5 separate regions of the Homo sapiens genome follow, and regions 2, 3, 4 and 5 are each linked to region 1. Evidence: fine-mapped expression QTL. A gene starts in region 1. Each other region holds a variant in brackets. All regions are shown on one strand. Distances are from middle to middle.

Evidence for each region. PIP is the estimated chance that this variant, and not a neighbour inherited with it, causes the effect. A credible set is the group of variants that fine-mapping cannot tell apart.
Region 2: its variant is the best candidate, but not a certain one, in a credible set for the expression of RPS6KA6 in fibroblasts (GTEx, PIP 0.82).
Region 3: its variant is the best candidate, but not a certain one, in a credible set for the expression of RPS6KA6 in blood mononuclear cells (TOPMed, PIP 0.51).
Region 4: its variant is the best candidate, but not a certain one, in a credible set for the expression of RPS6KA6 in visceral fat (GTEx, PIP 0.57).
Region 5: its variant is the best candidate, but not a certain one, in a credible set for the expression of RPS6KA6 in sigmoid colon (GTEx, PIP 0.52).

What each region holds. Positions count from the first base shown.
Region 1 is chrX:84,185,757-84,190,865 of GRCh38, forward strand. RPS6KA6 (ribosomal protein S6 kinase A6) reads right to left here and starts at 2,443. Exons shown (of 22, transcript NM_014496.5): 1 at 2,063-2,443. The coding sequence starts at 2,143.
Region 2 is chrX:83,875,240-83,880,348 of GRCh38, forward strand. All of the region lies in intron 4 of CYLC1 (cylicin 1), which reads left to right. Among named protein-coding and RNA genes, the nearest start is that of CYLC1, 17 kb to the left of the region's middle. The variant T/G (reference allele first, on the strand shown) is at 1,998.
Region 3 is chrX:84,234,625-84,239,733 of GRCh38, forward strand. No RefSeq gene overlaps it. Among named protein-coding and RNA genes, the nearest start is that of MIR548I4, 11 kb to the left of the region's middle. The variant A/G (reference allele first, on the strand shown) is at 2,245.
Region 4 is chrX:84,738,697-84,743,805 of GRCh38, forward strand. It overlaps the pseudogene TEX16P. Among named protein-coding and RNA genes, the nearest start is that of HDX, 240 kb to the left of the region's middle. The variant C/T (reference allele first, on the strand shown) is at 3,006.
Region 5 is chrX:84,242,030-84,247,138 of GRCh38, forward strand. No RefSeq gene overlaps it. Among named protein-coding and RNA genes, the nearest start is that of MIR548I4, 19 kb to the left of the region's middle. The variant T/C (reference allele first, on the strand shown) is at 2,152.

The DNA.
Region 1 (5,109 bases):
TCTTAGTCCTAAAATTATCACAATTGAGGGTTGTAGAGCTTGTACTCAAAATTAGCATTTTTAAAGCCAACATCAACAAATTTGTAATTAAAATATAAATTATCAAAAGTAAACTTGTTTACTTCTTATCAAAAGAATATAATTAAAAACAAACAAACTCTTCTAAGTACTAAGTGGGTCTGTTCAAATGTAGCATTTAGTTTTCACCTATAATATTTTTTATTAAGTAACTTGCAGGGTTAAATCTAACCAATCATAACTGTTTTAGAGAAAGAAGGCAGAAATACTATCTTCACCACATTACCTTCACCTTTCGTTTTACTTCATAGGGATTAACAATTTCCACTCGAGTATTTTTCCAAATTGCTGAGGTAGAGAGACCCATTGTTAAATCTCTACAATACCTAAAACATACTGCAAACAATAAAAAAACCATATGTGGTAATTACAATTTAAAACATACTACATTCAAAGTTAACAGAAATAATAAAATAGTAGGCATGCAAAAGGATTCCCACCTCCCATCCCATCCTTATATCAAAGCATTTAACTGTTTTTATAAACTAAATGCCTATAAGTTCAGTAAGTTACATACATGAATATAACAAAGTTCCTCTCCCCTTCAATAGACTTGCTAGACAATTGTGCAAACAGTTAGCATTCCCACATTTCAACAAGAAAGGAACGCCTATTCATTTATCTTGTTCTTACGAGATGTAAAATATTAAAACGTATATTGGAATTGCTTGGTTTACTAGTAAAATATTTCCTGTAAGTATAGAGGGTTCAGATTTAGGGTACTTCTGAATTTATTTCCACTATATTCCTTACCACATGTTATTCTAGCATGTAATCTTAACCCCAGTTTAGTTGATAAATAACAAAAAAATTTAAAGAAAAAAAAACAAGGTAATCATACAACAGCCAAATGTGTATTTTTTTTAAATGGAGCAAGTACTTGAAGACAAAGTTGCACCCTTTAGATGTCGAGGATTGAGAGTCTTACCTCAAAATATCCTACTGTGAATCAATTTCACCAACTATTTTTAGGAGGTGTATGGTGGCCTCTACTGGAGTAGTACGCAGTCGATTAAGTTATCAGAAAAGGATCCAACTTTCTATCACAAAAGACACGTTTTTGTGTTTAAATGCTGCCCGCTTTTATAACAACAATAAAAACAAAGCACCTGTGTACATCTAAGTTCTCACTGCACAGCTGACCAAAGCCCAACCAGAACAGTTTCAGAGTAAGAAGAGTGGGAAGAGAGGTGAACCAAAGTATTTTGGTTGAACCTCGCTAAGTCTTACCAAAGATTCGACTTATTTATAAGGGCTGGGGTTTACTTTGCGTCTTCTTTTACAGACCAACGGGGCAGGGACAGCGGTTGTGGAAAGGAGAAGGGGTGGAGCAAGAGTGCAGTAGAATCAAGGGGACCTGAGAGGAAGCAGTAGAACATCACCTGAAACCTGGCGACTGGAGATAGGTCGCCAGTGTATCTCGACATGGGTCATTACAAGGAACCATAACAAGCCACAGAGAAACGAGAAAGCTGTTACCAGGGAACACTCGTGCCTATGTGCAAATGTCCCCAGAGTTACTTAGTCACCTTGGTGTGTTTGTTGCACTGGGTTCGTAAAGCGTCCGGGGTTCAACAGCGAGCTGGAGTCCGCAGCTGTCCCCCAAAATGTTCCCAGCCAGCAAACTAGGCGCGGCGGAGAAAAAGGGACGCGCGGAGTCAGGCACAGCACCCCGCCAGTCCCCCAGTTCCCCTTCGGGTCGGAAAGTGAAGAAACTTAGTCACAACAACTCTGGCGTGGCCCGCCAGGCAGGCGCTCCGCCCAAGGCCGAGCCCGGGCCCAGGCTGCACTCACTCCGCAAGCCCGAGCCCGCCGTCTCATCCCCGCCCGCTCCCCAGCGAAAGGGCAGTGGAGGCAGCATCAAGGGGGCTTGCCCGGGAGCCCGCTTCCCGGCCCTACGCCTCTCCTCTCTCCGTCCCCAGCCAAGGTCTTGAGGGGAAGGAGGCGGGGGTTGGCTCCAGCCCGTCTTGGCCACCACACTAACCTCGCCGCTGCTCGCGCCGCCGCCGCTGAACACTTCCATTTCTCGGTCCCAGGGCTCGTCCTGAGGAGCGAATGGTAGCATCTCCCCTTCAGGAGCACTCAAACAGGAGCTGCCGCCTACCGCTGGCGCGGCCGCGCATCCTGTCTATTGAACTGGCCCGCCGCCGCCGCCGCCGCCGCCGCCGCCGCCGCGACCCCCAGCCCCGCCTTCAGCGAGCGCTGCCCTCGCCGCCGGGTCTCTCAGAGGCTGGGAGCTGGGGGTCGCCGCCGCCGCCGCCCGGTGATTCCCATAGAGAAGACAACTCTGTGCTGCCTCTCCAAGAGCTGCCGCTCGGCTCGCGCTCACCACTGCCACCACAACGACAGCCGCTCGGTGGTGACTCCCCCAACACCCCACTTCCTCGGGTCCCCTCCCCGCTCCCTGCTCTGTCAATATGGCGGCAGCGGCGGCGTTACCTGTGCGGCGCCTGGACCCCCCCACGGCGGCGGCACAGCGGCGTCACCCAAACGTCAATGGAGATTCCCCAGCTTGGGGTGAAGGGGGCGGGATAGAGGGGCGGGGTGGATGCGGGGGACCGCGTGGTGGGTGGTGGGATAGAGGGGAGGGGGGCGTGCTGGGCTGGGGAGGCGACTGAACAGTAGTAAAAGCCCCTGCTAGCGCCTCGGTAAACCTGCCCACTCCACGGAGCATGCGCAGCGCTCTTCACACATGCTCAGCAGGCCCTCTCAAGTCCACGGAGCAGCATTGCTGGCGGGCGGCAGGATTCTCAAAAAGGATGCTGGAACTGGGGGACCCTCCAGAGCACTTGAGGAATCAGGGTAAGGGTAGGACTCCAAGAGTATCTCTTTGCAGGGCTCACGAAGAGCAGGTGTCTTATATGCCAAACCACGCCCATTTCGATACTTAGTGACAAATACTAGGGCAGGGATTTTAGTACATCATACATTATCCTCCTAGAAGGTAAAGGCAGGATAACCCCCATTTAAAAAAATAAATATACCTGTCCTCTCTAGCCCCCACCTTACTTGTCCCTCTCAGGATGCTCCTGCTGGTTGCCTTCACACTATTGATAACACACAATGTTTCTCTTCACACATGCACACACACAGGCAAACATATGCCACTTAATGAACTCCACTTGTGGCAACAAAGGCATGATTCCGAAGCTAGCCCATCCTCCAGCCCCCTCTGAGAATGTTGGGTCTGTAGTGACAATAATCATAGTTTTTAGTACCTTCTTCAAAGCGAGCTTTACTACTTCGCTACTCTAAGCCACACATTGTACTGGGAGCTGGCGATATAACAGAGATAAAGTATAATCTTATACGGGGGATAATCAAGATGCTTCTCATCAAAACACTTCAGAGCTGAAAGTTTAAAAGTTATTCCACATTTGACACTTCAAAGACTTAAAAGAGCAACTGTAACAGCGGCTAAACCAACTCAGGACCTTGGAGAGGTTTCTAACGTTCATAAAAGGCACACCACCCCCTTTACCCTTCTACACCTAGGGCTGTTGACCTATGCCCTCCATTTATTTCATCATCTGGTCTCAAGAGCTAATGAAGCAAAGCTGGCCACAGAGATTGCACTGAATTACAAACAAGGATAACTGATAATGTCCTCTCACTTACTCTGCTGAAAATCTCGAGGAGAAAGTGAGCTTAACGAACAGGGTTCTCTAAAAGTCAAAGCTTCGAAAGTAGTGGGTGCATGGGGCTATAAATCGTGAAAATGTGTGAGAGTGTGTGTGTCTGTGTGTGCACGCACACACCCATAAACTCATATTTGGCTGAACTGACAGTATTAACTAGGGCCAACTTTTTTTCTTTTTCTTTTTTTTTTTTTTTTTTTTGAGACAGAGTCTCATTCTGTTGCCCAGGCTGGAGTGCAGTGGCGCGATCTTGGCTCACTGCAACCTCTGCCTCCCGGGTTCAAGCGATTCTTCTGACTCAGCCTCCCGAGTAGCTGGGATTACAAGCGTGCGCCACCACGCCCGGCTAATTTTTGTATTTTTAGTAGAGACAGGGTTTCACCATGTTGGTCAGGCCGGTCTCGAACTCCTGACCTTGTGATCCGCCCACCTCAGCCTCTCAAAGTGCTGGGATTACAGGCCTGAGCTGCTGTGCCTGGTACTGCCAACCTTTTGAGCGCTGGGTCTCATCCATCCCTTCTTGCCTACTCAAAGGCTTTGTTCTGCAACCCGCCCCCCCACTAACATCATCTATTTTTTTCTCTCTACTGGATCTCTCCCGTCAGCAAAAACATGTTATTGACAGCTTGCTTGAACACTTGCTGGCATTTGATGTAAGTTCATGACTTACTCTTTCTTTAAACATTTTCTTTACTTGGCCTCTGGAACGAAATAATGTTTGTTTTTCTCCTACATCATTGTTTCTCTTATACATCTTTCTGTCTCCTTTACTGGATCATCCCTCCTCTTCCCAATTCTGCCTATTGGAACTTCAAGGTTCAGTCCCACCCTCTTTCTTTTTCAGCGTTCTAGGTATTCCCATATCCCATCCATACCTGATATGGTTAGGCTTTGTGTCCCCACCCAAATCTCATCTTGAATTGAATCCCCATAATCCCCATAATCCCCATGTGTCAAGGGAGGGACCAGGTGGAGGTAAGTGAATCATGGGGGTGGTTTCCACCATGCTGTTCTCATGATAGTGCCTGAGTTCTAACAAGATCTGATGGTTTTATAAGGCGCTCTTCCTTCCTTTGTTGGGCACTTCTTCCAGACGCCATGTGAAGAAGGTACCTTGCTTCCCCTTTGCCTTGATTGTAAGTTTCCTGGGGCTCCCCAGCCATGATGAACTGTGAGTCAATTAAACCTCTATTTTTTAAATAAATTACCCAGTCTTGAGCAGTTCTTTATAGCAGTATGAAAACAGACTAATACAATAAATTGGTACCAAGGTAGTGGGGTGCTGCTATAAACATACTGGAAAATATGGAAGCGACTTTCAAACTATGTAACAGGCAGAGGTTGGAACAGCTTGGAGGGCTCAAAAGAAGACAGGAAGATGTGGGAATGTTTG
Region 2 (5,109 bases), 310 kb before region 1:
TTGGAGGTAAATACTCTGTCAACTTAAAGCTACTACTTCTCTCATCCAGGAGTCTTTCCCTTCAATCCCTTCCCCAATAGTCTGATTGTAAGGGAAAGCATAAATAGACATATTACATTAGACAGAGGAGTTCTGGATTAGTTCTCACACTGCTGATAAAGATATACCTGAAACTGAGAAATTTACAGAAGAAAGAGGTTTAATTAGACTCACAGTTCCACATTTCTGGGGAGGTCTCTCAATCATGGCAAAAGGCAAGGAGGAGCAAGTCACATCTTACTTGGATGGCAGCAGGCAAAGAGAGCTTGTGCAGAGAAACTCCCGTTTTTAAAACCATCAGATCTTTTGAGACTCATTCACTATCACAAGAACTGTGTAGGAAAGACCTGCCCCCATAATTCAATCACTTTCCACTGGGCTCCTCCCACGACATGTGTGAATTGTGGAGGTTACAATTCAAGATGAGATTTGGGTGGGGACACAGCCAAACCATATCAAGTCCCTATTCTACATGTTTCCTCCCTTTCTGTCTCTATGATTTTTGGTTGGGTGTAACTCATTTACATGATTTCTGGGCATCAATCTTTGTTTCCTATGCTTGCATGGTATTCATTGTTTATTCTAAGCATCGTAGGACTGCTGCCCTCTGACCTGTTAAACTCACGGCTTCTGTAGATACAGCTAGTTCTTGACCCTAAACTTCTCATTTTTATTAATTTCCTCCTCCCTTTCTTCTCCTCATTTCTCCCCCTTGTCACCTTCTTGTTCTTCTAACTCAAGAAATTTATATTTCCTCTTTTAGGCTCAGAGAGATCTATTTTATCTTATATTCCAAATATTTTCTATCTTTGGTTTATAATAAAACTTTACATATGTACATCAATTTACTTCTCATATATTAATATTTTTTGGAAGATAAAAACATCTTTTATCACTCTCAGAAAGCCTGGGTTTCAAGTCTAGCTTTCTCCCAGCAGACCCCAAAACTCTGCTTTGAGACTCAAAGTTGATTAATGACCCCCTTGCTCTAGGTGATATCTTCTTTCTCCACCAGATTGAGTTAATGGATGGCTAACCACTAGTGTGACAATACTTATAAGAAATAAAAGTACACTGGGGAATAATTTTTAAGATAAGTAAGAAGAAAGACTCTCAAATAGCTAGACTCTTTTCCACAGGCAGTTTTTAGGAAAAGTAAATAAAATATAAGAAAAAAATTGAATACAAGGATTAATTTTAATTAAAAAATTATCTTTCAGGGTATGTTCTAGGCTTGTACAATTCATGCCAAGTCTCTTTAATAAACTTCCATATGCTTTGCCACCATTCAGTTAGGCTTTTCTGTCTCTACTACTCCACTGAAACTTTTCCTTTAAAGGTTACCAAATACCTTCTTGTGGCCATATCTATAGGCTTTTCCTCCCTCCTCATCTTATTTCATAATTCAACAGCATTTAAACTAACCTTTCTGTCTGGAAATACTTCCATTACTTCACTTCTATGACTGTGCTCTCCTGTTTTTATTTCTACATACTGGTAGATTTTAACCACCTTTATTGTATCCTTCTCTGCCTCATTATTAAAAATTGGAATGATCCTGTCTTTGTCCTGGACACTCTTTATTTACAGTCCTCCCTTTGTGAGTATATAGCGTTAAATGGCTTTAAATATTATCTATGTATTGATGATTCCAAAATTAATATCTCCAGTTATGACCTTCTAATTGAGCTCCAAAATCTCTCCACTTGAAATCTCCACTATAGTATCTACTGGGCATCTCATACTTAAAATGTTTAAATAATATTTTTAACCCCACACTAAATTCTATTCCTCCCTTAGCTGTCTTCATCTTATCAGATGGCACCACCATCCAGCCAGTTGATTTTTTTAAGCCTGGACATAATCTCCTTCTCACTTCTTTTTCTCACCCTACACAGGTAATCCATCAGCAAGACTTGTTTACTCTACCTCCAAAATATGTCCTGACTGAATCCACT[T/G]TCCTTATCTCCATTACTACCACCTTCGTTGCTCCAGTCATCACCATCATTAGCATCTAGCTATCCATTAACTCATTATGTTGCCCAGGCTGGTCTTGAACTCCTGGGCTCAAGCAATCTTCCAGCCTTGGCTTCCCAAAGTGCTGGGATTGTAGGTGTAAGCCACCATGTCTGGCAGAATAAAATTTCTTACCCTAGCTTCCAGTGTCTACAATCTTTAGCCCCTACCCATTTTTCACCATAATCATGTAGCACTTCTTCTCTTTTCTCTTGTCATCTAGCCAAACTGGCATTCTTTTTGTTTCTCATAAACACCAAGATTGTTTTCTTGCAAAGCCTTCTCATGTGCTGTTTCCTCTGATTGGAATATTCCTCCCACAGATCTTTGCATGTCTATTCCTTTTCATTATTTAGTTTTTCAGCTTAAGTGTTCTCTTTAGAGAAGCCTTCCCTGACTACCTTACTTTATGTTACCCTCTCATCCACCACTATGCAGTCACCCTCCGAACACTGCATCATACATTATTTGGCTTCACTGAATTTATATTTATATAAAATTATATTTTATTCATTTGTTTGTTAATTATATTCAACATCAGAATTCAGGTTCTATGCAGGCAGTGAATCTAGCCTGTTTTTTCATATATATATATATATATACAAATATATATAAATATATATATATATATAAATATAAATATATATATTTGTATATAAATATAAATATATATATTTGTATATAAATATAAATATATATATTTGTATATAAATATATATATAAAAATATATATATTTGTATATAAATATAAATATATATATTTGTATATAAATATATATATAAAAATATATATATTTGTATATAAATATAAATATATATATTTGTATATAAATATATATATAAAAATATATATTTGTATATAAATATATATATAAAATATATATATTTGTATATAAATATATATATAAATATATATAAATATATATATAAATATATATAAATATATATAAATATATAAATATATATATAAATATATAAATATATATAAATATATAAATATATATATATAAATATATAAATATATATAAATATATAAATATATATATAAATATATAAATATATATAAATATATATAAATATATATATAAATATATATAAATATATATAAATATATATAAATATATATAAATATATATATAAATATATATAAATATATATAAATATATATAAATATATATATAAATATATATAAATATATATATATTTTCATACATGTCCACAGATTCAAAAACAGCAGCTATATATATGAAAATATATATTTTAATATATGTCCACAGATTCAAAAACAGCACCTATGTTATATTTAGTTGGTTGAGAATTTGGTCCCTCTAAAGAGCTACATATCACAGTAGGAGACATTCGGATATCCCTTTTTCCAAGCATTTTTCCTCTAGATATGTCATTAAAACAAGTATTTTTTTAAGTGAGGGTAGTCACAAAAATGCACTTTATATTCTAATTGGATGTCTGGAAGAGAATACCTATGTATCCTGCTCAATTGTGTATGGGGAACTTATGAACAAACTTTGTTATTGAATCTTATGGAGTTTTCTCCTTCCTTTTTTTTTTTTTTAATATGGGCTTGAAGAATGATGGCTTTTCTCCTTTTCTCCTCCACTGGAGTCCTAGTGATTCTCACAGTAGCACATAAGCACGTAAGAACCACATAAGCAGTGCTGTGTTTCAGGGTCAGCACTGTTTACACTCCTGGATTAAGATTATTTACATTTGATATTATGTTTATAAATCTTAGCAATATTCTCAAACGTAAGTGAAGAATTCTTTATATTCCAGATGCTAAGGTAGAAAAGTAGGGTGTTATGTTTAGGGTGTTTTGTTTTCCATTCTGTATGTGTATATATAATCTTTATTAACAAAAATACAAATACAACAACAGAAACAATATAAAATACGTAAAGAAAAGCTAATCATTTAGATCCTCATGTCCACTTTCTGATGCCAAATCCCCCTATTTTCTCATCTTCTAGAGGTAAACAATGTTAGCAGCCTGGGGTCCATTTTTCTCTCTTACACCATTTCCTTGTACAAGCAAATGTAAGGAGGGAGAGAGAGAGGGAGAGAGAATTACATAATTTGTTTTGACCAAAATACAATCATGCACATGCAGTAAAGTACAACTTATTTTCTCACTTGACAATATCATGGTCATCCATATAAGTCGTTAGACATACATCTATTGTTATTGTTCTTATTTCCAACTTGCTTGTGAAAACACACACAGAATTTTGTGTCAATACCATACATTGTGATTTGTTTTCCTTCCATCTTTTATTTTTGCTTATCTCTCTACTTCTCATTCCCACTTTCACCCATCGCTTTTTTTCTCCTTTCTAGGTAACACTTATCAACAACTTACTATGTTTCATTCCATACGTCTTTCTAAGGTTCACTTTACCATATCAAACATTCAAACACACACAGACACATACACACACACACATGCACACAGTGGTAGCATCTGGCAGCAGAAGAGAAAGTGTATGGCAGCTGGGAGCAGGAGGAAGTGAGGTTTTCTTATTGTTTTATTTTAAAATAAAGAAATAATACATCTTTGCATCTTGGTCAGCAATAGTTGTTACAGCTCCTCCTAACTTTTGCCATTCTAATGGATGCATAATGATATCTCATTGGTACTTTAATTTGCATTCTCCTAAATGCTAGTTTGTTTAAATATCTTTTGAATGTTTGTCGTGCCATACGTTTGATCTTTTGAGAATTATTTCTTTGTATTCTTTGTCCATTTTTCACATGGGTTATTTGTATGTTTCTTGCATTTATTAAAGTATCTTTGCATATTATAGGTATTACTCCTTCATCTGTCTTCCTTGTTGTATTTTCCCTAGCTTTCATGTCTATTAATTATTTTGCAGTGTATTTTGCTGTGCACAAATACTAAATTTTTACATAATCAAATACGTCTATAATTTATTTGGTTGTTTCTTGGCTGTCCGTATTAGTGAAAATTATCTTCTCCACAGAGTAGTTTTTAACAGGGACTAAAACAAAAACTAGTCCTTAGTAAATAATAAACTG
Region 3 (5,109 bases), 49 kb after region 1:
AATTTTAAGGTCTGTGAAATGAAGATTGGGTTCATTCTCATTTTGATAAGGCATGTATTTAAATCATCAATTAATAGCAGTGTTTTCATTAACTAAACTATGAAGCACATGATGGATAAAGTAATATAATCAGTTTCCCTGGAGTGTAAGTCACTACCAGACTATACGTGATACACTTTTTAGGAAATTTCACTTAATCTTTCAGGTACTATGATAATATGCTCTCATTTAGTTTTACACAATAGTGACCTATCTCAGGAGCTAGAGAAAGTCCAAGTTAGGGCAACTGCCAAATTGCTTTCTACAGTCAGGCAGTTGCTTGATTCTGGAGAGAATCTGAGCTATTCCTGCAGTTGTGGGTAAATTGAAGGGCCACATTAAAACTGTAAAAGGGAAGAGTGGGTAGACACTCTGTTCAGGTATGTCTGTTCTCAGTAAGTTGCCTAAAGGCTGGGTAATCTCTAGTAGGTTGAAGACCTGAGAGAAATCACACTGTGTTCTCTCTCTCTCAACATTTGGTTTATAGGGAATAACGTGGAAAGTCTGAGAGTAGAAGAATCACTTAGAGGTCAGCTTGATGGTACATGTATGAAATAGAGAAAAGACAAGGCCACCTCTGGCTGTTTTGCTTTGGAACAGAGGATAGGCCTGGCTGCAGAAGAAGAATGGGATGTTTATGTGTTTGCATATATACATATGTGTGTGTTTGGATATATATATATATATATATATTTTCTAGGAACAGCTCTGTCTATTGACTTGGAGAGAGAAAGTGCCCATTTTACAGCTCACTTTAACAACCAGAGCAGAGCTTAAAGATAATTATTTGAAGAGAGATTATTGGCTCAATCTGAGTCTCTGAGTTTCTGAGTGCCAAACCTGGTGTCCCCTAGAAATTGCAGCCATGCTTCAAATGACTGGCTGTGATCAGAAACCAGCCTAGTGGCCCTCACAAGGGTGTGAGACTTCTGTTCACTGCCAAAACTCTGCAAGAAGAAAACTGTGTGAGTTTAGCAAGGTTATCAGTTCGAACAGCAGAAATGGGCATTTTCTTATTTGAGAAACCAATAACTAGCAGCTATCTGTTAGGAAAGAAAGGATAGATTTGTTGCTAAAGAAAGCAAAGTTGAATTCTGGAAAGCTAATCAAGTGTACTGAGACAAAGTAGCCCAAGTCCCCAGGAATAACCAGTGACAAATTAGTTTTTCATTCTGCTGCTTTCATGCCTGTTTTAAGAATATTCTTGAAAAACTGCTCACCACAGAGAAGCTGGCCCTTCATCTTCATCCAGAGGCAGTCAGCCTGCTGCAGTGGGAGGGCACAGGACCAGAAATCAGGAGCCCTGCTTTTTAGTTACACCTCTGCCACCGACTTATTTTGTGACGTTGCATAAATTCCTTTACCTCAAACACCACATCTAACTACCTCACAAATACGCTGCAAGAACTCAGTGAAATAATGAATGTAAAAGCACTTTGCAAAGCATGGAGCACTGTAGAAGTATAAGGGATTATTATCCAAGTAGGTTTCATGCCAACCTTTCTGGTATCACCCTCAAGACTTCTTCAGCTTTGGCACAAAGTTCTCAATTCTCTGCTTGCTCCCTCCAAGTCCTACCTGGCTTGGGAACAGAAGTTTTCACCCTCCCTTCTTTTGTCAGCTTTCTCCGTAATGGGGCCTGCTGAATGTAATTATTGTTTATCAGTTCTAATTTCCCCTAGAGAAACCATCTTCCTCAGGAAAAGACTCCACCTTTCTATAAACACCAAGTCTTCAGGCACAACATACTCATGTGGCAGGTGTGATGCATGGGGGAAAGGAAAAGGAAGCAATATACAGCTCCAGGAAAGAAAGCTGTGATTTCAGTGAGACTTTCTTGATGAGCTTTCAGTGCCCAGAATACACACACACACACACACTCACTCACCCACATTCTCTTGATGAAAGACTCAGGCCAGTCTATATACCACAGCAATCAGAAGTCTTACCTGATACCTGCTATTTGCTCCTGAGCCTATGGTGGCCACTCTCTCTTCTCTCTACACCTGTGAAGGTTTTAATTCAGTGCTGTCCATTTATACCCTTCTAAGAGTGGCAGGACTCCAGGAATCTCTGTCCTCACCAATCATAAGTCAGAACTCCCAAATTCCTGGCCATTTCTGATTTAACCCTGTCTAACATGTCAGCTTTCTAGCTGAGGGAAGGACTTAGCCTCAAAAATCAAGAAGCTGCTGGCTTGTGCCT[A/G]CTGTCCAGACCCTGGACCTGCCTTCCCCAATTCCAATAGACAACTCTGTGTGTCAGTAAGGCAGAAAGAATACTCTGGAGAGTAAGTCTTACAGGCAACATGAGGAGAATGGAGAAGAAGAAATCAAGTCCTACAGAATGAGAAGCTCAAGTGTATAATGGATCCAAAGGGAAAAACTAAGGTCAAAGACCCAGGTGTCACAGTAAAACAGAGGGAACAGGATATGGACAGAGTTAAAATAAGCAGTGAGTTTAATTCAGGCTTGGCACAAGAGTACATACCGAAGCAGGGTCCTAACATGCAAGCAGAATTTGTTAACTTGACATCCTAACTGGCGTGGACAAAAGTGGCGTCTATAGATAAGACATGGGGAAAACTGAGGGTAAAAACTGAGCCTAAGAATAGTACCCTAAGTTCTGATACACCCAGATGAGCCTCCACAGTAGGAATATTTCATATGTCTGAAATTCTTAGACCAGGAGTTCCAATTTTCATCACCTCACCTGGTATGGAAAAACAAGAACCTTACAGAAGAGAGTAAGACTATACAGGGATCAAAACTGAAGTTAAAGCAATGTACAGGACTCTGGGATACTTTTCTGGATCTAACTAAATCTTTGGGCAAATGCTCTATCAGAATAGAATATAGGGTTTGCCTTTCTGATTTGAAGATTGGGATATCTCATTTCATATTCTGTCTTGGAGACATGGCTGTTAGGCAAAATAGTTCTCTCTTTGTCCCTTCATGCTCCTACTGCTTCTTGTTCATTTACCTTATTACTTACTCCAAGTTCAGGCTTATTTGTCCCAGAATATAACTCAGGACTTGGATTAGTATACCACAAAAGAGGTCTGCTGTTGTTAGTCTACTCCCCACCACATGTAATTGGCCAAAGGGGACAAGAATTGCAGGATAAAAAGGCATTAACTCTTGGCAGAACTTCCCATACTAAGCCAGTCCCTACTAGAGGTGTCTTGGGACTACATCCCATGTAGAACATAATTGTCATTCATAAAAACCACAATAAGCATCCCCGGTTGTCCATAGAAACAGGAACAGAAAGACATTTCACAGAGTAGGACCCAGGTGGTAGCAAGATACTGTGCCAAAGGCAAAAGGTATGAAATGGTGACCAGATGTTGCAATAGATTGTGTAAAGAGGATCACAGGAAAACAATTAAATCTTTTCTCAAGTAGCTCCATTTAAAATAATACCCACACACCACACAACTTAAATGCCCATCAACCAATGAGTGGATAAAGAAAATGTGGTATATATACAACATGGAATACTACTCAGCCATAGAATGCAATGAAATAATGGCATTTGCAGCAACTTGCATAGACTTGGAGACCATTATTCTAAGTGAAGTAACTCAGGAATGGAAAACCAAATATCATATGTTCTCAATTACGAGTGGGAGCCAAACTATGAGGATGCAAAGGCATAAGAATATATAATGGAATCTGGGGACTCAGGGGAAGGATGGGAGGGGGATAAGGGATAAAAGACTACATATTGGGTACAGTATACACTGCTCAGGTGATAGGTGCACCAAAATCTCAGAAGTCATCACTGAAGAACTTATCCATATAACCAAAAGCCCCCTGTTCCCCAAAAGCTGTTGAAATAAATTTAATAATAATAATACCCACATGAAGTTTTCCTTGTAGTAACTGGCACAGTGCCTACCTAGCACAGAGCCTGGCACATGGTAGGCAGTCAATAAATGGTGGTTGATTGAATGAATCACAAATTACACACTAAAACAGCCAGGCAAAACTTTTCAAGCTCTAATTATAGCTGTTAAAAGGATGTAAGTTGTAGTAACATTCCCTGTATATTGAATTAACTACTTCAGTAAATCAATTTTCTTAGCTCAAGTTTTATTTTTCCTGTCAGGATTTTAAGGCCTCAGCTTTGTACAACTATTTCCTTAGGTGTAATGGGGGAAATTATCTAAGGCCCACTAAGATTAGAGGGAGGTAGAGGAAATTGGAAGGCAACCAATGAAAGGTAGGAAGGAATCCAAGCGTGTTAGATTGGGAGAGAACTATCCCTCACCTCATTAATGTGACTGTAAAATTTGATCTTGCAAAAAGCAATAGCTAAAAAAATTAAAAATGAACATACTCATGTATTTATCCAGTCAACAATTATTTCTCTAAACCCCCTTGATTTGATTCAGCTTAAATTATAGAAAAATATAATATGGGCAGAAAAATTTTCAGTTTCCAGTCTACAGCATTCTAATTCTTTAATATGCCCTGCTAGATGAAGTAAAAGATTGCTGGGCAAAGGTACAGGCCTAAGTTAAGGCATAGCCTGGTTCTGGAGGCAAGCAGGGTCCAGAGATTTAGAGGCCTGAAGGTTGTCAAGAGGATCACAGATGTACAAGTCTAATTAGTTTTAATATGAGGGCAGCAGCTCTTTGTTTCTGCTTGATTTTAACCTACTGTCTGGGTGTGGTTGTACAGGTGTGGATCACAGTTAAAAGAAATTAAAAAGCTTATATGCACATTCTGCCATTTTCAGAGAGCCAGGGAGAGAGATGGTAGACTCACTCCTCTCTATTTTCATCTGGTCCCTGCTCTAAGTGTAAAATAATAGTCATTTAAAAGTCTCCTGCATGTTAGTATCAACTTTTGGGGTCTATCTTTTTGCTGAACCCATTCTTTTTATTTTCCCAAGTTTGCTGCTTTTTCCATGCCCCAGTTCCTCTTCCACTGGCTGTTTTACTGTGTTTCTCCCCTCTCTGCCCACCCTACCCCCACCCAATTTATTGCCCTTTTTTTGGCTCCCTGAAATGTGTCGGACTTGCAGAGGTATGGACAATTTCTTTAAAGCCATTTTAAACCTGGA
Region 4 (5,109 bases), 550 kb after region 1:
ATCTGGACCACACAGGGGGAGATTGTGGGAAACATAAACAAACTTTACCTACACCCTTCTGTAATAAATGTCACAAGGTAATATGTGGCAAAATTAACCAGCAAACAATCCCAGGGTCTTTCTTCCCTCATGTAAACCCCTCATTTTGTATGCTCAGAGCTGCCTCCTCTGTGATGGAGCAGCTGTCAGGTTAATAAACTTCCTCGCCTGACCTTGGGTCCCTCTCTCATCCTTTCTCTCGGCTGACCTTATATTCTGGTGCCGAAACCCGGGAAGGCAATAGATTCTGGCTGGGACTCACTCTCTCTCTCTCTCTCTCTCTCTCTCTCTCTTCCCCTCCCTCCCCTATCACCCCTCTCCCGGCCAATCTCCTCTTTCCCAAACCTGCCAAAGACCCAGAGAATCTCCTAGACTCTCCCATTGCTGGCAACCTCATCCACCATCAAAGCCTCCACCAGGGTGAGTGAAAAGAGACTGTTGCCATTCCCCAGAACCCTTGACCATCCATCTCTCCACTTCCAAAAGACCCAGCGCTGGGCCAAGGGCTTCCTCCCATCTCTGAGCCTCCAGTTCCTCCATTTCAGGGATGCCTGACTCGGTGGTTACCTCCTTTATTCTGGAGAAGTTCCATGGGAAAGGGGACGCCCTCTCCCACCGTCCTTGTCATCAACAGTCTCTTCTTCCCCTACCCTCCCCTCCTCCATTCACTATAGGAGCCTCTCAATCTACCCCTTCCAAGACCACCCCCCTGGGTGTCTCCTCCGCAATCTCCATGCTCTCAGCCTCCATTCAGAAATCCATTCTAAGAGGTTTATCTTTTTCAATGTACTTAAAGACAAACAACTTTTGCCATCGAAATGGGAAATGGTCTGAGATTCCTTATGTTCAGGCTTTCTTCACTCTCTGTAATCACTCTTCCCTCTGTCAGTCCTGTTCTACTTTCCAAATCCTCTTCACCCACTCCAAACCTGACTTGCCTCCTGCCCCCCTCCCCACAGCCCCAGCTGAAGACTGCTCTTCCTTCGACCCTGCCAATTTTCCCCTTCCCTGAAAGCATCATGATCCTCCACCAGAGCATCATGATCCTCCACCGTATGTCCCCACTCCAGCTCTACCTCTCTCCCCTCCTCTCTCCAACCACCCTGCTTCTGACTCTGAGTCCTCTCTCTCTCCACCCCTCACCTCCTCTCTGGCCCAAGATGCTCAGCAACCAGCTCCCTTGCTTCCTCTCCAGGAAGTAGCAGGAGTCGAGGGGATCATCCATGTCCATGTCCCTTTTTCCCTCTCCGATCTCTCCCAAATTGAGAAATGTCTCAGATCCTTCTCCTCTGATCCCGATACTTATATCAAAGAATTTAAATATCTTACCCAATCTAATGAACTCACTTGGCATGATCTCTACATTATCCTCTTTTATACCCTCCTTCCAGAAGAGAAGAAAAGAGTGTGGCTCACAGCACAGGCACAAGCTGATGATCTTCATTGGCAAGATCCTACTAAGCCTGTAGAAGCCGCTGCTGTTACCTGGGAAAAGCCTTCCTGGGAGTACCAACCCACAAACTCCAGCCAAGCATCCCATAACCATATAATTACTTGCGTCACTGCAGGCATTAACAAAGCTGCCCATAAGGCTGTAAATTTTGAAAATCTTAAAGAAATTTCCCAAAACCAGATGAAAATCTTGCTCAATTCCTTTTCTGCCTTACAGAGGCTTTCCAAAAATATACCCACATTGACCCTGCCTCCCAGGAAGGAACTATTGTTCTTAATACCCATTTTATCTCCCAATCCACACCCAATATTCGGCACAAGCTTCAGAAGCTTGACGACAGCCCTCAAACCCCACAACGAGACCTTCTTAATTTAGCCTTCAAAGTCTTTTAACAATCGTGATGAGGAAAGAAAGGCAAAAACAGGCAGAGTTTCAAACGCTTGCCTCTGCCATCAGGGGCCCTGCAGGCAACAGGGCGCAGCTCCACATGGAAGCCTCCTAGCAATCCACCTCCACCTGGTGCCTGTTTCAAGTGCGGCAGTGAAGGCCACTAGTCCAGACAATGCCCTAACCCAGATAAGCCCACCAGGCTGTGCCCCTCTGCGGAGGACGCCACTGGAAGTCAGACTGTGAGTGGCCCCCACAAGGACTGCCCCCATCCCTTCCTGAACTGGCCAAAACCTCCTACTCAGATCTCATCGGCCTTGCCACTGAAGACTGATGGTGCCCTGGAACGGACGCCCTGGCAACTACCATCTCTTCATCCGAGCCAAGGGTAACCCTGATGGTGGCAGGTAGGCCAGTATGTTTTTTTTTTTCAATACTGGGACAACCTACTCTGCTTTACCTAATTTTTCAGGACCCACCAAGTCCTCCCAGGTCTCTGTTGTAGGAATTGATGGGCAAGTCTCCAAACCCCGAGCCACCCCTCCACTCTTCTGTTCCCTGCACACCTTTTCCTTCACTCACTCTTTCTTAGTCCTGCCCTCATGTCCAACTCTACTCCTAGGCAGAAACATCCTTTCAAAAATCCACACTACTCTCCACCTCCATGGTGACCTACTTAGGAATTCAACTTTCTCCTGGGGCCCGGGCTATGACCCAAACCCAAGTGGCACTAATAGATAAATAATCTGCCCTGCCCTCCTCCAACAGCGAAGTCCTTTCCTTCCTAGGACTAGCAGGCTTCTTTAGAATATAGATTCCCAACTTTGCCCTCCTAGCTCACCCCCTCTATGAAGTGGCAAAAGGCCCTCTCAGTTAATCCCCAAACTCCTCACATAACATACTCCCCAGCTCCGTGAACTCCAAACTGCTCTTGTCACTACACCAGCTCTGTCCTTACCTAGTATCTCCCAACCTTTCATTCTCTATACTGCCGAAAGCCAAGGAATAGCCCTCAGTATCTTAGGGCAGCAGAAAGAAGACCCTCCTTCCTTTGCCCCTGTAGCCTACCTCTCTAAACAATTAGACAACACAGTCAGAGGATGGCCAACCTGTCTTAGAGTGCTAG[C/T]AACAGCAGCCACTTTAGGTCCAAAAATAACCAGGAAACTAACATTCAGTCAAAATAACACTGTCTACAGTCCTCATAATCTACAGGATTTCCTCTTCTCCTGAGCATTAGGCTCCCTTCCTCCTTACCGGATTCGATCATTCCATGCCCTCTTTATCGAAAATCCCGAATTCAGTATTGCCAAAAGTGCTCCCCTCAAGCCAGCATCATTACTCCCCGTATCCCCTTCCCCTCCTACTCATTCTTGCACTGACATCCTAGATCACCTGCAGCCACACTTTCCAAGCATTTCCTCTGAGCCTCTCACCGACCCCAATGACCAACTATTTATAGATGCCTCCTCTTCTGGGCCCACTGGCTCTCCCAAAATTGCTAGGTAAGAGGTTGTTTCCCTTGACCAAGTAATTGAAGCTAAGCCCCTACCTCCAGGAACCTCCTCTCAAAAAGCAGAACTCATAGCTCTCACCAGAGTCCTAACCCTTTCTAAAGGCAAATGGATCAACATTTACACAGACTCCAAATATGCATATCACATTCTTCATTCTCACACCATCATCTGGCAAGAGAGGGGATTCCTCACTGCCAAAGGGACGCCTATCACTAACGGCCCCTTATTTACCAACTCCTTCAGGCTGCACATCTCCCAACTGAGGCAGGAGTTATACACTGTCGGGGACATCAAACAGAGACAGAAAGGCCTTTGAGGGAACAGATTAATCTCAAGAGGGAACAGAAAGGCCAACAAGGCAGCAGAGAACAGAATCTCAGGAGGGAACAGAAAGGGAATCTGAAGAGGGAACAGAAAGGCCAATGAGGCAGCAAAAAAGGCCTCCCTTTCTTCCACTCCTGCCTCCCTCCTCCTCATTACCCCTGCAATCCAAGCTCAATACTCTCCCACTGAAAAGGCTTTATTACTACAACAAGGAACCTTCCTCCAGGGGGACAGGATAGTTAAGGACCAGAAGCTAGTCCTTCCCCAGCTCCAAACCGACAAAATCCTGACATCTCTCCACCAATCCTTCCGTGCTGGTGCATGTCCCCTGTATCTCCTCTTCTGCCCATATTTCTTCTCCCCTCACCTATTCACCTCACTAAAAAACATAACTTCAAACTGTCATATATACTCTGTCACCTCCTTTCAAAGAGCCCTCCACTCCCCATCTATTCCTACACACCAGCTAAGAGGAGCACTCCCAGGAGAAGAGTGGCAAATATACTTCAGCCACATGCCTCCTGTCAAAAAAACAAAATTCCTTCTCACTCTTACAAACACCTTCTCTGGGTGGGTGGAGGTATTTCCTACCTCTTCAAAAAAAGCCACAGTAGTATCCCAGATCCTTATCACAAAAATCATCCCTAGGTTTAGTCTCCCTCACTCCATTCGATCAGACAATGGCCCTGGGTTTATCTCCCAAATCACCCAACAGGTCTCCCAGTCCCTCGGCGTCCAGTGACACCTTCATATCCCATATCGACCCCAATCATCAGGAAAAGTCAATAGGGCAAATGGAATCCTTAAAACTCAGTTGACCAAACTCACTCTAGAACTCCAGAGGCCCTGGACTTTCCTCCTACCCGTAGCTCTAGCCTGCATCAGAGCCAGCCCAAAGGCACTCTCTTTCCTCAGCCCATTTAAATTAATGTATAGACGCCCTTTCCTCTTACAAAATAGGCCTCCTTCTAATTCTCAATCAGGGGAATACCTCCAAACACTTTCCCCCATCTGCCATCTCCTCCACAAACAGTCAGACCAGGCCCTCCAAAAACCACATAAAGGCCCTTGACACCTCCCACCTCCTTAACAAAAATTCAGAGTACTGTAATGGCTGACACCTCCCCTATTTATCCCTCTTCTCTTGGCTCCCCTCTCCATACACCATCCCTATACACACCACCCATGACGGTCTCATCCCAACATCCAACAACACTCCCACATGAATCTTAGTAAACAGAAAACGCTTCCTCTTACACTGGGAAAAAAAAAAAAAAAAAAAAAAAGCCTCCCAGCTTAAACCAAACACCCTTTAACAACCACTTATAACAGCAGCCCTAGCTGGGACCCTAAGAGTATGGATGCTTGAGAATAACAAAATAGTACATCTTT
Region 5 (5,109 bases), 56 kb after region 1:
TGTTATACCTTCTAATAATTCCTTTATTCTATTTGTAGAATAGAGGTTATTCTCTATTAGCATTCTCCTTACTAGATCATCTTTGTTATCCGTCTTTATTATTTTCTCCTGAATCTAATTTGTCTTTATCTTCTGAATTTGCTGTGATTATCTCAGAATTTTTCTCTTTTATTAATTTGATTTTAAGCAATTCTGCTCAATTCCTTGCTATTTCTAGTTTATTCATTTTCAAATAGTGAGGTTTTTGTTGTTGTTGTTGTTCTCAATTTGTTTCCTTAGCTTTGTGCAAGTCACATACCTGTTTTCAGTTCATTTAGGTATATATCCAGGGGTAGAATTGCTGGGTCATATGTCACCAAAAATACCAAATACCACACCTGGAAAAGCTATCCTTCAAAAATGAAGCAGAAATTAAGACAATCCCAGATAAATGAAAGCAAGGGAATTTGTCTCTGGATATCTCCTACAAGAAATGCTAAGGAGAGTCCTTTAGGCTGAAATGAAAGGAAGCTATATGGTAACTCAAAGTCATACAAAAAATTAAAGATCTCTGGTAAAGGTAACTATGCAAGTAAATATAAAAGATAGTATTATTATATTTTGTTTTGTAACTCCTCTTTTTGTTTCTTATATAACATGAGAGACAAATGCATAAAGCAATAATCATAAATCTATGTTAATGGATACGTAAAAGATAAATATTAAATTTGTGTCAATAAAAACATAATGCACATGAGTAATATAAATCTCATAAAAATCAGGAAGTGGTGGAAGAGAGTATAGGAAGTATAAGAGTGCTATTTTCCTCATCTTTCAAGGCAGATAATCAATACATATTATGTAAAATTAAAGCATAAAGCTCAATAATTTCTGAATCCAAAATCTCATTATTTTTAATTCTCTTATATTGGCTGTTCATCAAACATTGTATGCATAGTCCCACCTCCCCAACTGATGGTGTGATTATGAGAGTTACCAATCCACAATCTGAAAAGCAAAGGAAGAATGTGTACTGGAAGACAGAGGTAAGATATGTGGAATTCTGAGTCAAGGTCAGCTATTGATTAGTCAAATTCCATTACTATATAATATTCCTAAAACTTGATACTTCACCAGGCCCTGGAAAGTAGGGACAAAAATAAAAAATCTGACTCATTAGATGTTTAAGTGCACTACAGCAATAAATAAAAGGGTTTTTAGTGGCACTACCTCCTATCAGGGAGGTGATTTGAGAAGATGTTATTGCATGAAAGGGAATACTGCTTTAAAAGAATTGCTGGCAGTAGAATGATTAAGAGGTAGTTACAAGGGAAACTCTAGGGCATGGGTGAAAACCAAAAGGTTGGGGGGTGCGGTAAACGTGAGCAAAGGCTCTAAGTACACAGACAAGGCATATCTTCACAGGGTAAAGTTCTTCCCATAGGGAGCTTCAAGAGCAGTGAACTATGCAACAATTCTGCCACTTTGCTAGCTATATGATTCTAGGCATGTCACTTCCTCTCTAGAGGTCTCAGTTTTCCTCACTCTAAGGATATTCTTCATACTTTTTATATTCCTCAGTCTGATACCCATGGGCCTACTTTTTCAGAGTCAGCTGAATCTAGACAAAGTTTTCCAAGTAGTGACTACTAGACATCCATTTCCAGGCAAAGTCCCTGGCAAGAGTATGATATTGGCAAAGCTTATCTCTGAAACCCTTCTACCTTTCTAGTTTAGTGGGCACTCCTCATCTTGCTGCTTGTTTCAATTCCTCCCTCAATCCTTCAACAGCTAATCTAAAGTCCTTCAAAGGTTAGTTGATAAAAGTTTAAAGGCTGATAGTGGGACAGTGGTCAGAGATTAGGGAAGTATTTATGGAGAAGACAGGATACCATTTGAAGTGGAAACATGGAAACATATGGGGCAAAGGGAATGGTTTAATTCGTTGAACACACAGGGTAGATTTCTGGGAGAACTGGCCTAGAAAGTTTAGAATGGGATGAAATTCTGGGGGCCTTATTCCCCAGGATTGAAGCATTTGGAATTAACTTGATTAGCAATGAAGAGCCTTTGAAGATTTTGTCCAGAGAGTGACATTAACAGTATAAAGCACAGTTCTCTGAAAAGCTCCAGTTAAAATGAAAACTACTTTCCCTGGGATAGTGATGCATT[T/C]GTTTGTTAGCATTTATTAACACCTTAGAGAGATACATTATCAAAAAACAAAGTGCCCTAAGGGACTAGGTCACAGGCACAGGACAGAGCAATATTGATTAGGTAGGAAAAGGGAGCAAACAAAGTTTAGAGAACAAGTTGCACCAGAATGTATATTACAAGGGGCTCCTAAACAGATGGAAAGCAGCAGGAGAGCAGCACTCAGTCTGAGGTGAGGACACATAGGTCAATGATAGTTGGGGTGTGAAGCTAGGTCTTGGGCCCAAGTATGGCAATCTGAAGATAGCTTCTGTCTCAGAACCTGTCTTTTCTGTTAGCTGGAAATCACACCATTAGAGATTAATTCTTTAGGATCTGGAAAGTATTTTGTTTTGTTTTGTTTTGTTTTTAAGATATCTTGAGACCTCTAAGAAACTCAAATATCCCTGGGAAACAAACATTTAATGCTATTGGACTCTAGTCTCATTTCTTCTCATAGCCTCCCTTTTTATATCTGTAAAATAAAGGCAAAACCTGTTTTGTTAAACTTAAAAGCTCGGGATAAGAGAGATCATCAGAGGGTCCGATGAGATAATAGGTGTTACAGCACATTATAGATGATAAAATGCTAGACCAGTGTAAATGAGGGTGACTATTTTATAGGTTTTCTTCCCTCCCCCACAGTACCTAGCAGAGAGTTGAGCATTCTGTTGTATACACTTACCAAAATTAGATCAAAATAAATAGGTGTAATTTAATATCTTTTCACAGAGATTATGTTGAGCTGAACATCTGTAACAACAAAACAGACAAAAAACCTTTCTGACGGAAAGGTTGATCATGATCAATCTAACTTAGATTCCAGAAGATATATGGAAGCTTGAGAGAGAGCAATTATTTACATTTACTTGTGTAGTCTCTGGAAGATTTATGGTTAGGCTGTTGAAAATCCAAATTTTGATTCAGATTATCACTATTTCCAATTAAATGCAGTTACAGAGTACTGCTCTATGCTGTTTTACTTTAAAGATGCGAGCCACTACAATTCGTTTATTGAAACAATTTCTTGCATTTATTTTTTTAAAAAAACTACTTTTAATTTTTATAGGTCAGTGTATAAGTTTATGGAGTACATAGGATATTTTGATACAGGCATGCAATGTGAAATAATCACATCATGGAAAAAGGGGTGTCCATCCCCTCAAGCATTTATCCTTTGTGTTAGAAAGAATCCAATTATACACTTTTAGTTAAAGTGTACAATTAAATTATTTTGACTATAGTCACCCTGTTTTTCTATCAAATACAAAGTCTTATTCATTTCTTCTAATTGTTATTTTTGTGTTGATTAACCATCTTCACTTCCACCCCCCCGCCCCCCCACCGCCAGAGTCCCCGCTGTCTATCCCAGCCTCTGGTAATCATCCTTCTACTCTCTATCTCCATGAGTTCAATTGTTTTGATTTTTAGATCCCACAAATAAGTGAGAACATATGATGTTTGTCTTTCTGTGCCTGGGTTATTTCATGTAACACAAGTACCTCCAGTCCCATCCATGTTGCTGCAAAAGATGGCATCTCATTCTTTTTTATGGCTGAATAGTACTCCATTGTGTATAAGTGCCACATTTTCTTTATCCATTCATCTGTTGATGGACACTTAGGTTGCTTCCAAATCTTGGCTACTGTGAATAGTGCTGAAATAAACATAGGAGGGCAGATATTTCTTCAATATACTGATTTCCTTTATTTTGCATATATACCCAGCAATGGGATTGCTGAACATATGATAGCTGAATTTTTAGTTTTTTTGAGGAACTCCCAAACTGTTTTTCACAGTGGTTTTATTACTTAACATTCCCATCAACAGTGTACAAGGGCTCCCTTTTTTTCACATCATCTCCTGTATTTATTACTGCTTATCTTTTGTATATAAGCCATTTTAATTGAGGTGAGAAGGTATCTCATTGTAGTTTCATTTGCATTTCTCTGATGATCAGTGATGTTGAGCACCTTTTCATGTGCCTGTTTGTCATTTGTATGCCTTCTTTTAAGAAATGTCTATTCAAATCTTTTGTCAGTTTTTAATCAGATCAATATTTTCTTTTCTTTTCTTTCCTTTTTTTTTTTTGAGACAGAGTCTCACTCTGTTGCCCAGGCTGGAGTGCAGCGGCATGATCTCGGCTCACTGCAACCTCTGCCTCTCAGGTTCAAGCAATTCTTATGCCTCAGCACCTTGAGTAACTGGGATTACAGGTGTGTATGTGCTGCCATGCCTGGCTAATTTTTTGTGTTTTCAGTAGAGATGTGGTTTCGCTATGTTGGCCAGGCTGGTCTCCAACTCCTGGCTTCAAATGATCTGCCTGCCTCAGCCTTCGAAAGAGCTGGGATTACAGGCATGAGCCACCATAACTGGGTAATAATTTTTTTCCACAGAGTCGTTTGAGCTCCTTTTATATTCTGGTTATTAATTCCTTGTCAGCTGGGTAGTTTGCAAATATATTCTCCCACTCTGTGGATTGTCGCTTCACTTTGTTGATTTCTTCAATAACTCTTGGTATAATCTGTCTGATGCTAAGTTTTCTCATTGGTTAAGATAAGGAGGATGGACTAGATAATATCAAAATTTATTCAGAGGCTAACATTCTAGTATTTTTGCTTCGCAATATGACCTGAGGCCTTGAGTTCCTGGTAAAGTTGAGTTCCGAGTGCACTGGCTGTTAGCAAGCACTCTGATTGGAAATGTGAGACAAGGGAAAAATTTAGATAATGACTTCTTAGCTGTTCTATCTGCTGATAAATGTTCAATAAATCATCCATTGGTTTTGAAGTAGTAAAAGAATTTCATTCTCACAGGATCTAAATGCTTATGTATAGGGTTGAATAACTAAAAGGAAAGTATAAAGAATTTTTGCAGTTTCAACTTTCTTGCAGAGAATGGGATTGGTGAGCAATAATGTCGATCCCTGGGTAAGTAGTC